Regions from separate parts of the Homo sapiens genome. Here region 1 is linked to region 2. Evidence: fine-mapped expression QTL. A gene starts in region 2. The other region holds a variant in brackets. All regions are shown on one strand. Distances are from middle to middle.

Region 1 (2,928 bases), 100 kb after region 2:
TGCTTCATAATAAGATCCAGCAATCCCACTTATGAGTATTTATCCAAAAGAATTCAATTCAGGATCTTGAAGAGGTATGTGCACTACTGTGTTCATAGCAATGTTATTCACAATTGCCAAGATGTGGAAACAACCTAAATATCCATCAAAGGGTAAATGGATAAAGTAAATGTGATATATATACATATATATATATATATATATTCCATTGTATGTGTGTACATGTATAATTATATTCCATAGACATGCACACACATACAACGGAATATAATTCAGCCTTTAAAAAGAAGGAAATCCTGAAATATGTGATAACATGAATAAACCTTGAAAACATTACATCAAGTGAAACAAGCCAGTCACAGAAGGACAAACACTGCATGTTTCCACTTATAAGAGCTAGCTAAACAGTCAAACTCATAAAAATGAAGAATAAAATGTAGGTTAACAGGGTTTGGAAGGAGGAGGAAATGGGAGTTGCTAATCAACAAATATAAAATTTCAGTTATGCAAGATAAGTAAGTCCTAGAGACCCATGTACAACATTGTGCCATAGATAACAACATTCTACTGTACACTTACAAGTCTGTTAAGAGGGTAGATCTCATATTACATGTTCTTATCAAAATAAAATAGAATAAAATAAAATAAACCAACACAACACAAACCATCTATGAGGAAGGATTGTTTTATGTCTCCACCTGGCTTTTTTGGAATGTAAGTTCTGTAAGGAATGCAAAAGCCCTTCCTGTCGAGCCATTTCATTGTTTAATTGTCATGGTTAGACATTTCATGGTGTGCTGAATTGGGAACTTTTAAGACATTATATACAACATTACATACTTCAGATTTAATGCATCTATTTCATGACATGCTTTGTGTTATTCACATATACACACACACGCATGGAGTCACCCTGCTGGATTTGTACCCGTTGACACTGATCTCATCTATGAACTGGATGCCTCACCCACCCTCCTGGTCTGCCTTGGTTGAAGTCACACTTTAACCGGAAGGTCACAAACTCCCCAGCCTCTCTGAACCTTTCCTCAATAGGTCAGTCATAATTCTGCAGGCACCGGATTTCCTCTTTAAGCCCTACCTATGCTGTTGATTACTTGAGCAAGCAGCAGAAACACTGATAAACAGCAGGGAAGGATGCCGTTTGTTCTCACCAACTGTCTCACCTCCTGGCCCTTCTGAACCCTCTGTGGGCCAAGGAGTGTGAATGAGTTGGCCATCAGGAGAGCTCGTGGAGTTTACACAGACTAAGTGGAAGCCTTA[T/G]TAAATAATTAACTCAACTTGGGCCCCAGCTTGCACTGTATGACCTCTCATCTGAACCCAGCAGAAAACAAGGTCTAACACTGAGAACTGGAATCCCTAAGTCCAAGACCTCTTACAGAAAGTTTGTAGCACAAAAAATTGCTGTCCCCTCAAAACGTACACCTAGACATAAGGTGCTAAGTCTGTTGAAACTATGAAACAGATGAAGACAAAAAGAGGAGAGAAGGCAAAACAAGTAATAAAATGGGATTTTTTTACAATTATGAAACATTTCAAGCATACAAAAAAGCAGCCACCATCCAGCTTTGTCAAATCTTGGCATTGGTCATTCATGCCCCAACACGTTCATAAAAATCACATCCCAGATGCAGTTGAATTGCACTGCCTTCTTTTCAGCAAACCCATCTTTGTTCCTCCTTATCCAGAAACAACAGCCATTCTGAATTCAAGAATTTGGTATTCACTATTTCAAGCTTGTATGATATTTTTGCAATATATGAATATGTTCATGATCAGTTTTATGATACTGTTTGCAGATTTTATTCTGCATATATTTTCCTGTAATTTCCTTTTAATTCAATATTTTACTTTTATGATATTACCTTGCCAGTACTTAGAGCTCTAATTCATTTGTTTTATCTAGTTGCTGAACCTTCAGTTGGTTTCCATTTTTTACTATCTCAAATCCTTCTGCCACCAACATTCCTGCCCAAGTCTCCTTGTATACATGTGTGAGTCCCTCCAGGATATTAATTACTAGGTCACAGGCATGCACAGCCTCCTCCTTACTAGATCTTGCCAAATTATTCCCTCTCCATGGTTTTTGCAACTTCAAATGCCCACCAGTACTCTATGAGAGTTCCTACTCTGGTACAATTCAATATGATTTTATTCCAAATTTTTGGTTCACATGACGCTCTTAATGAACAGCTTTATTTCATTGGAAAAAGAATGAAAGCTATAGGTATTAACTTATGACTACATAATCTACACACTTTAAAAAGGCATAACAGTGAATTAATAGCTTAAGATTTATACCTATCCCATATACACACAATTATATTTATATTTTATATTAAAAGCATTATCTCTGAGATAGAATAACAGCTTCCTAACATACATGTCAATATAGTAATAATAACCATAATTTTAAAATAATAGCTAGCAGATTTTGAGTATTGACTGTGCAGGCAACACTGCATTCCATAAATATAATAGCTTGTTTAATCCTCACAACGACCTCGTCATTTAGAAACTATTATCATTGTTATTATTATTCATTATTATTCCAGTTTAGTAGAAGAGCTAACAAACCTTAAAGCAAATAAGCCAGTTGGCCAGAGCCACATGGCCAGGAACTGATGAAGACGGGATTTGGACCACTCTCCTCTAAGCTGTGTAACTTCAGAAAATCTGCTTTGTCTGCCCGTTTCCTTGCCTGGCTAATGGAGAAAATAGGACCTGTCTCTCAGGGATGAAACTGAGGCTATAATGCAAGAAGAGCAGTTAGAATAGCAACAGCACATGGTAAGCACTTTAATAATTAGTAGCTTTCACTATTTTTCAGTTTAGTAGTTCCATCATTTAAAAATATTATAAATAAAGATAATATTAAGATGAAAAGCAAAAATTGGAGACCTTTGCTGT
Region 2 (2,928 bases):
GGCCCTAGACCCTACTCTGGGACACAGTAAGAATTTTTGGATGGCAGAATAGTAGGGTGAGCAACACATCCTGAGTTGGCTGGGGCTTTCCCATTTTTGGCAGTCCCTCAATTTCATATAAAAGGGGGCAATGGGTCACCCTACACCAGGCACAGATGGCATAGACTATGTGGTACTGGATAGGGGCAAAGCAAAGAAGTTCTAATGTGGTCTTAAAAGTGGAATGAACGCAAATCCCTCCAGCCAAGAGATTCTCATCAAAGACCCCCTATAGCAGTTTAAAACACAGACTCCGGAGTCAGAATGCCTGTGTTTAAATGCTAGCTTTGCCTCCGCGCCTGTTTTCTCATTGTTAAATAAGGATAAAAACAGTATCTCCCTCAAAGAACATAAAATAAACAATACACGCAAAACAACTTACAGCTGTACCTAGCACACTGTAAAGCTCCCCAAATTATCAGCCGTTATCTCCTTCCCCCTCTCCAATTTTCTTTTTCTTCTATCTGACTATCTTTACACATCTGGGAAGGCTCACGGGATTAAAAACCCCACATGGAAGTTTAGCCGGCTTAGTGGTTACACAGGCGTGCTTTGAGAAAAACAAAAACAAACCTGAGTTTGAACTCCAGCTCTGCTTCTTACTAGCTGAGTCACTTTAGGGCCTCTAACTGCTCTGTGTCTAAGTTTCTCTACCTGCAAAGTGGAGAGGAACCCATTGCACTTGCTGAGTTGCGGGGAGGATAACAGATAAACGGCCGGCTGCTGGGCCCGGCACATCTTCCATTCTCAATAAATACTGGTTTTAGCCTGAAGGACTCAGGGGCATCAAGCGTGGAAATGGGCAGCTCCAGGTTGGACACAGGGTCTCTGGGGCCTGCTAATCTGGGGATGCAGGAACCTGCTGTCCCCGTTATGAGCTGCGTAACCTCGGGCAGGTGACTCCCCATCTCTGGGCCTCAGTTTCCTCACCCGTAACCACGCTCCCAGCAGCAGCTACCCATAACCAGTGAGGCTAATGCGATCATGCCGGTGCAACGCCCGAGTCAAGGCCAACCACACTCAACGGGACCTTCGGCTTCCCACACCTCAGGGGCGAGGCCGGGGCTGCAGGTTCCTCAGACTCCCCGGGGGCACCCTCGGCATCGCGGGAGGCGGACCTGCGTCCTTCGAGGCTCCCGGCCCCAGCCCCGGCGCCCCGCCTCGGCTGGCCAGGTGCCTAGGAAAACGCTCAGGGCGCCAGGCGCGAGCAGGCCTTGCCGCGGGACCGCTCTCAGGGCCTCGGCCTCGGCCTCGGGTCCCACGCCGGGCTTCGGAGCTGCGCACCCCCAGCATCCCGCGCCCGGGCCCCAGCGGCCGAGATCCGGCGCCGCCCGAGCATCCAGAGCCCCGAGCTCCCCACTCACCGCCTTCTTCATGGTGGCCGCCATCTTGGGACTGGACTACCGCAGGCGGCGGGGAGGGCCGCAATGGCGCGCTTCGCCCCCGAGCGTTCTCTCGCTCCCGGTCGGCCTAGAACTCCCCGCAAAAATACAACACTGTCTCCACATTCCGTCCTCTTGGACTTTTGGCCAGTGAGTCCAAACGGCTGGGACGTAGGGAGGAAATGTGACCTGGAAGGACTTGGTACATGCCAATTAAAGGGACAGGCAACCCCCGTGGACCGACATAAACACGGGGGTGTGGCGAACGGCTCCGGCCGCGGGCAGCAGGGGGCGCGCCCAAGGCTCAGCGCGGCGGGGCCCAGCTGGGGCAGGATCAAAGGGCTCGGGGAATTTTTCTCCATCCGTCCCACAGACTTGCATTGAGAAAGCTAACCTACCTGTAAAACAGCTAGGAACGAATGGCCTTGGCAAATAGGGTGTGAGATTTATGTGCCATGATAATTCAGGTGGTGTAAAGGAGGTACTCCTATCTTTTAATGTAATTTTTTTTTAATTTAAATTCGGGGGGTATGTGTGCCGGTTTATTACATGGATATACTGCATGGTGCTAAGGTTTGGGTTTCTAATGATCCCGTTGCCCAAGTAGTGAACATAGTACCCCACAGGTAATTTTTCAACCCCTTTCCCCTGCCTCCTTCCCCGTTTTTGGAATCCGTAGCATTTATTGTTCCCACCTTTATGTCCACGAGTACCCAGTGTTTAGCTGTCACTCATAAGTGGGAACATGAGTGGTTGGTTTTCTGTTTCTGTGTTAATTCACTTAGGATAATGATGTCCAGCTGCATCCATGTTGCTGCAAAGGACATGATTTTGTTCTTTTTTATGGCTGCATAGTATTCCATGGTGTATATGGACCACATTTTCTTTATCCTATCCACCACTGATGGGCATCTGGGTTGATTCCATGCCTTTGCTGTTGTGACTAGGCAATCCTATTAATTAATTTACAGCAATATTACTGAACAATTACTGTATATTCTGACACTTGTGTCTCCCAATTAGTAATTTTTTTTTTTTTTTTTGCCTTAGGACCTCTTTATACTCCTGGAAATTACTGAGGACTCCAAAGAACTTTTGTTTATGTGGGTTATTTATCGATATTTGCTGTATTAGAAATTAAAGCAGAATTTTTAAAATGTATTTATTAATTCATTTAAAATAATATAAAACTCCATTCCATGGTAATAAAAATCACACTTTAAAAATAACTATATTTTCTAAGACAAAAATAAATTGAGAAGATTGTCATCATTTTACATTTTCACTGATCTCTTTAATATCAGGCTTAATGGAAGGTTACATTCTCATGTCTACTTCTGCATTCAGTCTCTCCAAATACACTGTTTAGTTGCCTAGTTGTAGGTATGAAAAACCCCAGCCTCATACAAATCATGTAGTTGGGAAAGGGAGGCCCTCATGGATCCCTGAAAAGGTCTCAGGGACCCCCGAGGTTCATGGGCCACAGCTTGAGAACTGCCCCTGACAA

Direction of the effects. Alleles are on the strand shown, and positions count from the first base shown. SD is a standard deviation of normalised expression in the study named.
For the expression in pancreas of the gene that starts at base 1,441 in region 2, T is the low allele of the variant in region 1 and G is the other (moderate effect, 0.43 SD a copy in GTEx).

What was found. PIP is the estimated chance that this variant, and not a neighbour inherited with it, causes the effect.
Region 1: its variant is the best candidate, but not a certain one, in a credible set for the expression of PFDN4 in pancreas (GTEx, PIP 0.56).

The regions. Positions count from the first base shown.
Region 1 is chr20:54,106,053-54,108,980 of GRCh38, reverse strand. No RefSeq gene overlaps it. Among named protein-coding and RNA genes, the nearest start is that of BCAS1, 37 kb to the right of the region's middle. The variant T/G (reference allele first, on the strand shown) is at 1,282.
Region 2 is chr20:54,206,600-54,209,527 of GRCh38, reverse strand. PFDN4 (prefoldin subunit 4) reads right to left here and starts at 1,441. Exons shown (of 4, transcript NM_002623.4): 1 at 1,404-1,441. The coding sequence starts at 1,427. It overlaps LOC124904937 (a long non-coding RNA gene), which reads left to right and starts at 1,487. Exons shown (of 2, transcript XR_007067669.1): 1 at 1,487-1,571; 2 at 2,472-2,582. RefSeq lists enhancers at 410-1,226, 1,367-1,686, 1,227-2,044 and a silencer at 1,107-1,376.